Linked DNA regions of Homo sapiens: all the other regions are reported to be linked to region 1. Evidence: microRNA targets listed by miRTarBase, many of them from high-throughput screens and not tested one by one. Region 1 holds a microRNA gene; each other region holds the end of a gene's coding sequence.

Region 1 (4,624 bases):
TCTGAAAATTATAAGAAACTTTGGACTACAAGCTTTCCAAAAACCAAGTACAACCTTAGAAAATTTATATCAAGTTTTGGTGCTCGTTATAGAAGACACCTTGATCACCATGCTTCAGGGAATATGAGGGTTGTTAGAACATGTGGAGACTTCCTAATGCATGACAGCTAAAGCTGTATTTCAAAATGAGCCTTGCTCCCTGGTACTCATGCAACAGTGTGATCCTATTTTCCTCACCTGCCCGTCTCAAACCTTCCACACCATACAGAAGGACCAGAAAGAACCTGGAAAGTTGCCCTCTAAGTCAGAGAATATTGTACCTATTCCTTAATATGTCCCCAGTGGTATCTCCCTCATCTCACCCAATCAGCACAGAAAGTTCACTTAACTAAAAAAGGGTTTTGTGTGCATAGGTACATAAACTATCATTAAAAGCAACTTGAACACAAAGCTGAAAGCCTGACCTAGACATTTACAGAAACAGCACCTTTTCTGAAAGCCTTAGTTTCAACTCTCCTCCCTGCTCACACCTGTTCCCCAAGTCCCCGTCTCTAATACTTACAGTGGCCGCAGGGGACCCAGTTCATCACAAACCACCAGATGTTCAGCATCGAGGCATGGTGGTAGACGTGCAGGACCGTGATCTGGTGGTTGTTCTTGCGCAGGATGAAGAAGAAAGTGTCCATAAATTCTATGAGTTTGGAGAAGTAGTACCACCAGAGGACACGGATAATCTAAGAGGAAAGGGTCAAAGATTTAAGGCTTATCCTCACGGCTTCTCTGGAATATCACCTCTGACATGTTTCACTAATATCCAAAAATCTGATGTCAACTCGGAGAAGCCCGAGTGCCCCAAGAGCTCTTAATGTCCATCAGTGGCTGGGAGCTATGGTCACTCTCCAAGTACCTTTAACCAAAGAACATGATTGGGTTGGGACAGCTGGAGGGGTTTGAAATGACTACAGGGAATATTTTTGAAAGGGTCCCTGACACTCTTTGAGACTAACAAAAACATGAGGCTCAAGGTTCAAAACCTTGAAGTCTGCCTATTCCCTCTGGAAGCAGCCTGCACAGCCATTAGCAAAGGAAAACCATCTGAAAAACGCTATTGATTTCAGGGACTAACATGGAGCAGCCGACCTGATAAGTGACACAGAAGAAAAGGAATCAGAACCTGCAGTGTCAGGTCTCTGCCCAATTAAACATGTCAAACAAGTGCTCTAAGGAGATGACTGCCCATGCTGAGCTGCGACTGTTGGCCTGTGATTTAAAACAAACCTCATGAGTGGAAGTCAGATTTTATTTTTAACACCACTACTCGGAAAAAAGTACTTGGATGAATGATTTTAAAAATTTAAGACATTGCTCTTATGATCCTGATTGTGTAAATATAACATACTGACTGCATGTGATTTTTCCTGCCAATTGTTAACCGGAGTTATTTTTACAGAGGGGGATGCTTTAGGTTTTATTTTATACCTTTCACATTCAAATTTTAATTTGATGTGTATATATTGCCTTTTTTATTCTTTTAAAAATATCAACAGGGATTGCCTGGGCAGTGAGGTTATGGGCCATTTTGTATTTTATACAATTTATTTTTAAAAACTCAACACTTATAATAATAAAGTTTCTGAAAAAGAGACAGTACCTTCATATCTGATTCTCCTGCGGTGCGTGTGCCCTGACAGAAGAAGTTGTATTTGCCTTCCCATACTCCTGTTACTAACTAAAAAAGAAGAAAGAGCCAGTCACCAACAGCATCTGAGCCATGTAAAGTCCTCATTGAACTTTATTAGTTGCAGAATCTGTGATAATTTACCTTGGGCTGTGCTGAGCCAAGTTTGCTCTGAGAAAAAACAATTGTAGGCAAGTGTAAACAAAAGGAAAGCTTTAATGACTTGAGTCTCAATTTCCTAAGGGGTGGGCTTAAAAGTCACTCCCAGGCTGCTGCCCTCAGAGACCTTCCTTTACCACGCTGCTTCTCTGCAGAACCCTCAGCCCGTCACCCCCTTGGTCCTAGCACAAGTGCCCAGACCAAGCCAATCACAGGCTCCCTGCTCTGCCCCACAGAAGCCTCTGGCTGCTTTCCCTAAGCCAGTGCTCCTCAAACTTGAGTGTGCAGCACCAGAATTACCTGAGGGGTGAGTTAGTAAAACATGGGTCCCTGGGGGTGTTTCTGTTCCAGTAGGTCTGGGGGCCTAGAATTTGTATGTCTAACAAGGTCCAGGTGATACTGATGCTGCTGATGTGGAAACCATACTTTGAGAACCACTGCTGTAGGCTCAGGGATAATTTAGTCCAACTTTATCTTCATTATTTCCTGTTGTTGTATGTACAATCCTCCGGATCCATGAATTAGGCTTCACAAACTGAAGGCTTCACAAGTGCCCATGCCTCAGAATCACTTGCAGCACAGTAGGCACTATGCTGTCACAGAGAGGACCCCAGAACTGGGGTACAGGCTCTACATCACAGCCCAGCAGTTATCACGGGCCCCTCCCCTCAATGGGCCCGTGATAACTGCAGGGCTGTGATGTAGAGTCTGCACCCCAATTCTTGTGTTCCCTGTCCTTGAACACAAGAGTTTAGCTTGGCGAGCAACACAGATTCCCCCCCAGGGAACAAGAGGTGATTACAAGGATCTGAAGACACCTTGTGATATTTCCACCTGGTCTGACATCAGAAATAAATGGCAAAAAATGGGTGTAGCCGCTGCACTCACGCTGGGTATCCTGCCTTCTATCTGATTTTTCTTTGGTTATCTTTCTTCTTGCCATTTTCCTTCTGCTTTGTCACCTTCTACACATAAAAAAGCACTGAGAGTTAACAGGCTTTTCATGGCCAAAGAAGAGCACAAGGATTTAGCATGGGAGAAGCATCAGTTCATGATGAAGAGCCATGGAATTAGGAGGAAGGCTTGAGTGCCAGGCCCAGCACCTGGGGCAAGCCAGCTAATTCCTGTGGGCTTTTGTTGTTTTTACTATAAAATGATGAGGTTGGACTAAATTATCTCTAAAGGGTCTGTTCCAAATTTCTGTAGCTTCATGTTAACAGACTTTAAAAACAGACCACACAACAAACTATTCTATACTATCTTTGAAAGATCAGTACCCACATGGTAATTCATTAGAAGGTGTATTAACTTTTCTGTCTTCTACTACTCTCTAAAGTCATGGCCAGTCAAGCAGGATCCATGCAGGCTGATCAGAAGTCCTAAGAAGCAAGACACAAAGTCTGAATCCAAAGTGCGTTGGAGGTCGGGGGAGGAAGCTGGCATGCACTCTTGAGACCTGGGGTGGAGAGGGAAGGGCCAGCTTAGCACAGTGCTCTTTTTGCTGCCCTTCTTTCTACCCCAGGAGGGAACCAAGGAACTACCTCCTGTGGCTTGAGGGTACAGAAAGGAAACTGGTGCTTCTTGATGAAATGTTTGTGGGACAACCGCGAATAAGAAAAATAAGGACAACGCAGTAAGGTTTTCATGAAGATAAATTCGTGCAATGTAAAAGATCCTCTTTTTTAAAACAGCAGCCTCTCTTGGCAAAATTAAAAACGTACTAACATATGACTGTCTTCATCAGAGATATTTTTGGAAATGTTACCATTTTATGAATCTTAAATCTGGAACCTACCATCACTGTTTTTTCCAGCGACTATTTTGGTTTATGGTGTCCAGAGACATCCTGGGTTGGTTTTGCTTTTGTCTGTTTTAAAATAGGATGGCTGGTGTGTGTGCACTTGTGGAGGTGTGGATGACTGCATTCATGAATGTCTATCTTGGCAGGGGTGGGGAAAATCAAGGTAGCTCTCTGGAGAAGAGGAGGACAAATCCTCTCTTGTAATTCTGCAGGCGCCTCAATCCCAAAGATGAGAACGGGTTGAAGGGGTCTTGTTAACTCAGCAGAAGGGACTCTTGGACACAGGCTTCCTTTTTAAGAAGGGATCCAGGTGGGATTGCCTTGACTCTTTAAACTAGTTAACCTAACGTTCCATTTGCCCTCTCCCCACCCATAAATGGGGCAGGGGAATCCATGTATAAAACACCTGTTGTCTTTGGAGTTTAGTTAAAGAACTCAAACCTCAGTATTGGGTGGTGAACTTTTTTCACTCCTGAAGCATAAACCAGGTATACACACAAGAAGCTGCTCACTCGGTGCCACTCCACTTGACCTAGGCCCACCATTCCTCTTCCACCTGTTGAGGTTCCCTGTAGGAGCTCTGTCATGCTTCAATGCAACACTCCCTCCACTGCTACTCACACCTACCACACTTCCACTGGGGCCGCTGTGCCCCTCAAACCACTGAATTCCATATTTCCATATTTAAAACCCTCCAGTGAGTCATCATTGCCTTCAGAATGAAACCCTGAATCCTAGGTGCAGTGTCCAGGTATTTAGTCTTCCACAACGTGGTCCCAAGCTTATCTTTCACTTCTCCCCTACGTGCACACAAATTGGACCTCTTCCCATTCTCCAAACATGCCCTTCCTTAACCGCTACACAGTAGCCAAGGGGAAAGAGCATGGGTTTGGGCATTAGCCCATTAAACCCTAGCTTTTTCACGTTTTGCTAGGTGACCTTAGCTAAGGTATTCCAACATTTTAAACTTCAGTTTTCTCAGTCCT
Region 2 (3,000 bases), not on the chromosome of region 1:
ATGTGTAGGTTACAGACCTGAGTTCGTCAGAAAAGATGAACCCAGCTGTCCAAATCCAGGCGGTTCAGCAAGGCAGCCAGTTCTTATTGGCCAATTGTTGCATAGCCCGAAACGTTGGCGCTCCTCACCTACCCCTACTGAGAGAGAGAAAGAGGACCATATAATATACATTACCAGCTTTAAAAAATTGTTTCGAGGTATAATTCATATACCATAAAATTCACCGTTTTAAAGTGTGCAGTTCAGTGGTTTTTAGTATATTCACAAGGTTGTGCAACCATCAGCGTTATCTAATTCCAGGATGTTTTTATTACTCCTACCTGCAAAAGCCCCTGTACCTGCTAGCAGTCACTCCCCATTCCCATCTTACGCCATCACATTATTAGCTTTAGGATTGACTTCTTTCTTCCTTCCAGATCTTGGTACCGATGGAATCATTCCACCTACCTCCACTGAGACCAAAAAGTTTCTCCTACTCCAGCTGGCCCTGTATTCCCCCTGGAAGGAAGGGAATCATGCCTTCTATATACAGACAGATTGCCTTCAGAAGAGTGGAAGAAAATCTCCACTATCAATGAACCCAGACTCTTGTCTTCTTCAAGAGCAAGGGCCTCCGGAGATCCAAACTGTGATTGAACCAAGTGCAGACTCCTAATGCTCTTGAAATACACAGCCCCTCCTAGGAGCTTACCATTTTCACCTTCCTTGCCTATGCCCTTGCCTTCTAGTTCCAAATATTTTAGCCAGCTTCACTGTGGCAATAGTCTTTCAGAGAAAAGACTTCTTGCTGTTATTCTCCAACTCATCCGTGGGCTTCTGGGGACAGCCATTTGGCTGGGGTGCCAAACACCAGAAGGGGAGATAATAGTTTTGACTCTGAACTTGGCCACAACCCCTGAACTGATCCCAAAATCTGTGAAAAGATTTGAATCTGATATCTCCACCAAAGCCTTGATGTTTTCTCTGTACAGCTAAGTTTTCTGATGGAATCTTCATCTCACCCCATTTTCTTTTTAACCTCGCCCCCTTTTCTACAATCAAATCCATTCATTATTGCGCCCTCCAGGTCCCCTCCTTTTTGCAGAAGGTGTAAAAGAGCTGCCCTTGGTGGGTGCCCTGGGCATGTTGCAACGCCTGCTGGTGCCCTTCTGTCTGTCCACGTCTGCCTAGGGCTCAGGAGTGCTTGTTCTTTCCCTTCCTCCCTGTGTTTCTCTTTATCCTGTCCCCTCTCCTTTCTCCTGGCAGCAGAAAAGGAAGAACACAAGAGCAAACACACAACAATGATGGTGGCAAAGTACCTGTATATAGCCCTTTCCCATTTTTTGCATTATGTTCTTAACTCCTTAATGTGGAATTTTCCAGCAAAATGTTTAACTCAGGTGTGATTTTTGAAAATGTCTCTGTAATATTTTATCTTCTTTAAAAAAAAGGGGGGGAAATACCAAAGTGTGAAATACTGTGCTACCTTCCAGAGTTCCCACATGGGCTGGGATTTTTTTTTCTTTTTCTTTTTTTTTTTTTTTTTTGAGACAGTCTTGCTCCAGCCCAGGCTGGAGTGCAGTGGCATGATCTTGGCTCACTGCATGCTCTGCCACTTGGGTTCAAGCGATTCTCCTGCCTCAGCCTCTCAAGTAGCGGGATTACAGGCGCCCACCACCAAAAATTAGCCCAGCTAATTTTTGTATTTTTAGTAGAGATGGGGTTTCACCATGTTGGTCAGGCTGGTCTTGAACTCCTGACCTCCTGATCCACCCACCTCAGCGTCCCGAAGTGCTGGGATTACAGGTGTGAGCCACCGCGCCTGGCCTGGGCTGGGAATCTTTGTTGACTTCTTTGGGAACATTATCTCTAGAGTCTGCTTTTTTGTGGGCCAGTTTGTAGAGATGTAACATGAAGCCATTCCAGAAATGGTAACTTAAAAAAAAAAAGACTACATGTCTAGGAAACTGTTGAGATTCAAAGGAATCTCACTGTTCCTAAATAAATGTGTATAGTGATTATGAAAAGTATCCCACTGTTGATAAGAAGAGGTTTAGATTCTTGTTCTGTGCCTTTTTGTTGTTGTGGGGGGCATGTGAGTGCATATAATGAAATGGGATGACAGAAAATGTTTCAAATTGGGACATTAAGTGTATTACTCCCCAAACTGATGCTAAAGATGACATATGTTATTACAGGGCCCTGAAGAATTCAGAGTTGTTACTCTCTGTAACATAACTACCTTGAGGGCAGAGTAGGCCAGAGATATTGTAAGTGGGAGGATGGTGAATGTTTAAGGTGAAGTCATTTGAAACTTAAGAGGTGGGGACTGAGGCTAATGTCTCATGTCTCAGATACCCTGAACGGCAGTTGTTCATTACTCACAACATAAAGCAATAAATAGTTAAGGCAGAGGGTAATTTAATAATCACATATTAGCTGGGCTTGGTGGTGTATGCCTGTAGTCCCAGCTACTGAAGAGCCTGAGATGGGAGGATCTATTAAGCCCAGGAAGTCAAGGCTGCAGTGAGCAATGATCATGCCGCTGCACTCCAGCCTGAACAACAGAGTGAGACCCTGTCTCAAATATACATATTTGTCTCATGTATATATATATATATATATATATATATATATATATATATATGGCTTCAGAATGCATTGTGACTTTTGGTTAGGAGGTTGAAAGGCAGCAAACCTATTCTTGTGTTTTTTCTTAGATTAATACAAATTTAAATAGTTACCGTTGGAGCCTGCAGTGAGCCAAGATTGTGCCACTGCACTCCGGCCTGGGCGACAGAGCGAGACTCCGTCTCAAAAAATAAAATAAGTAATAAATAGTTACCATTACTGAGATAAACGCTGACCTGTGGGAAAGAGAGGCCCTTCAAAAATGTAATGGCTGATGGGGAAAAACTAAAATTAGGATTAAACACTTCTTGCAAATAATAATATCCACACAGGAAACCTAAATATTAATAATGAAGAGTTAACCGCTCCCTGATGTTTGAATGGGGCTTT
Region 3 (3,000 bases), not on the chromosome of region 1:
CCCCAAAAAACTCTGTATCCATTAAGCAGTTATTTTTCATTTTCCCCCTAGACCCTGGAAACCACAGGAACATTAACTTTTAAGTTATTCTAAGGAATTTTAGAGACATAGATATTAAAACAGACAGATTTCAGATGGCTGTGCAACTGCTTCCAGTCATACAGAAAAGAGTTTTTTTTCAATAATCTCAATTCCAATTTTTATTAGCCATTCTATGTACATTGATACCAAGTCCTGAAAACTGATAAAAACATGTCCAGAATTTCTTTTTTTCCTTTTCTGAGAAAGGGTCTTGCCCTCTCACCTAGGATGGAGTGTAGTGGTGCAATCACAGCTCACTGCAGCCTCAGAATCTCCCAGTCTCAAGTGATCCTCTCATGTCAGTCTCCTGAGTAGCTGGGACTACAGGCACATGCCATCACACCCAACTAATTTTTTTATTTTTTGTAGAGATGAGGGCTATGTTGCCCAGGTTAGTCTTGAACTCCTGGACTGAAGCAATCCTCCTGCCTCAGCCTCCCAAAGTGTTGGGATTATAGGCATGAGCCACAGGACCTGGCCCATGGTTTCTTATACAGTCAATGTACAAATGCTCATTTATATTTTGCACAATAATGAAGATAAAAATAACAATTATAGCAACATACAAATATGTACAAAGATTCCAGACAGACTTTGTTTTTTGGCTTATAACAATGTGTAGATACTACACAAAGAATGAGGATGTAATTTTCATTTACAAGCAAAATGTGACCAAAATCCCTTTTCTTCTTAAAATTGAAAAATGAAATTCTTGAGAATACTAATTAGTGACGGCCAAATCTTAGACTATTTTAAATTAGCCATGGTTAAACATAGGTGAGTTAAACATTGTGCCTTTCCAAAATTAAGGTTTGCAGTTAGAAACATAAACATTTGATAAAACTTCTCAAAATTAATTATGAGTGGCTTATTCATGTCCTTTGGATTCCAGACACACACTAGAAAAAGTAAACGTTAAAGAGGTGATATTTTGGAAAGCATCCCTAGTACTGAAAAGCATCCCTAGCACTGAAAAAAGCATCCCTAGTACTGAAAAGCATCCCTAACACTGAAAAAAGCATCCCTAGTACTGAAAAACATCTTCAGGAGTACTCAGTACTCCCTAGTACATCCCTAGTACTGAAAAAAGCATCCCTAATACTGAAAAGCATCCCTAGTACTAAAAAACATCTTCAGGAGTACCCAGTGGTCAAACACTAGCAGGAAACTCATGATGCACTAACAATACTGAGAACAAAGTGTGGGAAGTAATAAGCAGCTATTTTACTGATGTATTAAATATATTAGAATTATGAGGCATGAGATGATATTTATGTGATTTTTAAAAGGTTTAAAATATTCTTAGGGACTCAATTAGATATTGAGAATGACTGATAACTATGATCTCAAAAACAGTATATCACACATAATCATGGTGTTACCTTACTAATAGGAATTTAGTTTTTAATAACTAACTGAATTTTATTTTACTGGCTTCAGAAGCAGCTGCCTATTTTGAGAACTACATGAGTTAATACGATCATATATAATTAAGTTAATGTCACAGAAACCAAAATGATAATAGTTTACAAAAGAAGAAAGTGCCCCATTTATTGGGTTGTGACATCAGGCTGAGATGGCTTAGGGCTGGAAAGCAAGGATGAGTGTAGCACTGGGGCTCAGGTACAAATCTGTTTATAAAGCTCAAGGAGAGAAAAGGCACGAGAAGGGGTGAGACAACTCTGAATGGCGGTGGTACCTGGATGTGGAATTACCACAGTGGGCCAGAGACAGGATGGTATATAACCCTCTGGCCAGGTACTATGGGAACCAACCCCTTCCTTCAATATTAAATTAAGAATACAAATATCTCAAAGCATGCTATCAAAAGTAGATTATTTATCCTCATATTACAGAACACAGAAGGAGACATTTATTTTTAAAAGAGAGCTAAAAAGTTATGGGGTTTCTCCTTATTTCATCTTGAAAACTCAAGGAGCAAACATTAAAAAAAATTCCCTATTTATATATATATATATATTTTTTGAGATGGAGTTTTACTCTTGTTGCCCAGGCTGGAGTGCAGTGGCGCAACCTTGGCTCACCACAACCTCCGCTTCCTGGGTTCAAGCAATTCTGCCTCAGCCTCCCAAGTAGCTGGGATTACAGGCATGCGCCACCACACCCGGCTAATTTTGTATTTTTAGTAGAGATGGGGTTTCTCCATGTTGGTCAGGCTGGTCTCGAACTCCTGACCTCCGGTGATCTGCCCGCCTTGGCCTCCCAAAGTCCTGGGATTACAGGCGTGAGCCACAGCGCCTGGCCGGACTATTAGTATTTTTAAAAGGCACTTAAAATATTCCTTTCCAATCCAACTCAAAATACATCTCTGTCAACTACATTTTGGATAAATATTTTAAAAAGCACATAATTTTTGTGCAATTTTTTCTTATAACCCAGTGATATTTATCATCTATAGGGCTAAAAGGTTTGAAGGACAGAGCTCCAACTTTCTGCAGAACAATCTGAAAGTGCTTTTATCATAGAAACAAGAACAACATTAATGATTTGCTCTTTCACTGACAACATCCTGTAGTCGTTTCAGTAAAACGTCATCATTTTCTTGACAGACGCGTTTGGCAGGGGATTCTGCATCACTATCGATGGCTATTACTCGCTTCTTGGTTCTCTGCTCACCTTGCCTTATCATGTTGTTGATATCTTTCAAACTCTGTGCAGAAATAGAGAACGTGTGTGAGTAAAAGAGGGAGAGGGGAAATGGCAGCAAACAACCAAGCTAATTGTTTTTTCCTGTGCTCTATCCTCTATCCAAATCTTAACACTGGGATAAGGACTCTTTTTAAAACTTAGAACAACCTAATAAGGGATGGCTTGAACTAATCTTTTCAGGTGGTTTAAAAATTAGATTTAAGGCCAGGTGTGGTGGCCTGTAATACCAGCACTTTGGGAGGCCAAGAT

The links. The annotated mature microRNA hsa-miR-5685 reads ACAGCCCAGCAGUUAUCACGGG and lies in region 1 at 2,475-2,496, shown strand. An mRNA with a match to its seed (bases 2 to 7 or 8) in the 3' UTR can be bound and repressed. Matches are read on the target gene's strand: a 7mer-m8 pairs with bases 2 to 8, a 7mer-A1 pairs with bases 2 to 7 and ends in A, and an 8mer does both.
Region 2: miRTarBase lists POU2F3 as a target of hsa-miR-5685. Seed matches in the 3' UTR shown: 7mer-m8 at 1,483-1,489 and 7mer-m8 at 1,808-1,814.
Region 3: miRTarBase lists RBL1 as a target of hsa-miR-5685. The part of its 3' UTR that is shown has no 7-base or 8-base seed match.

What each region holds. Positions count from the first base shown.
Region 1 is chr6:53,274,528-53,279,151 of GRCh38, forward strand. MIR5685 (microRNA 5685) reads left to right here and starts at 2,466; the gene lies at 2,466-2,544. ELOVL5 (ELOVL fatty acid elongase 5) reads right to left here. Exons shown (of 8, transcript NM_021814.5): 4 at 1,652-1,729; 5 at 563-734.
Region 2 is chr11:120,317,937-120,320,936 of GRCh38, forward strand. It overlaps POU2F3 (POU class 2 homeobox 3), which reads left to right. Exons shown (of 13, transcript NM_014352.4): 13 at 417-2,009. The coding sequence ends at 456. Among named protein-coding and RNA genes, the nearest start is that of TLCD5, 5.9 kb to the right of the region's middle.
Region 3 is chr20:36,996,178-36,999,177 of GRCh38, forward strand. RBL1 (RB transcriptional corepressor like 1) reads right to left here. Exons shown (of 22, transcript NM_002895.5): 22 at 172-2,752. The coding sequence ends at 2,582. Among named protein-coding and RNA genes, the nearest start is that of SAMHD1, 46 kb to the left of the region's middle.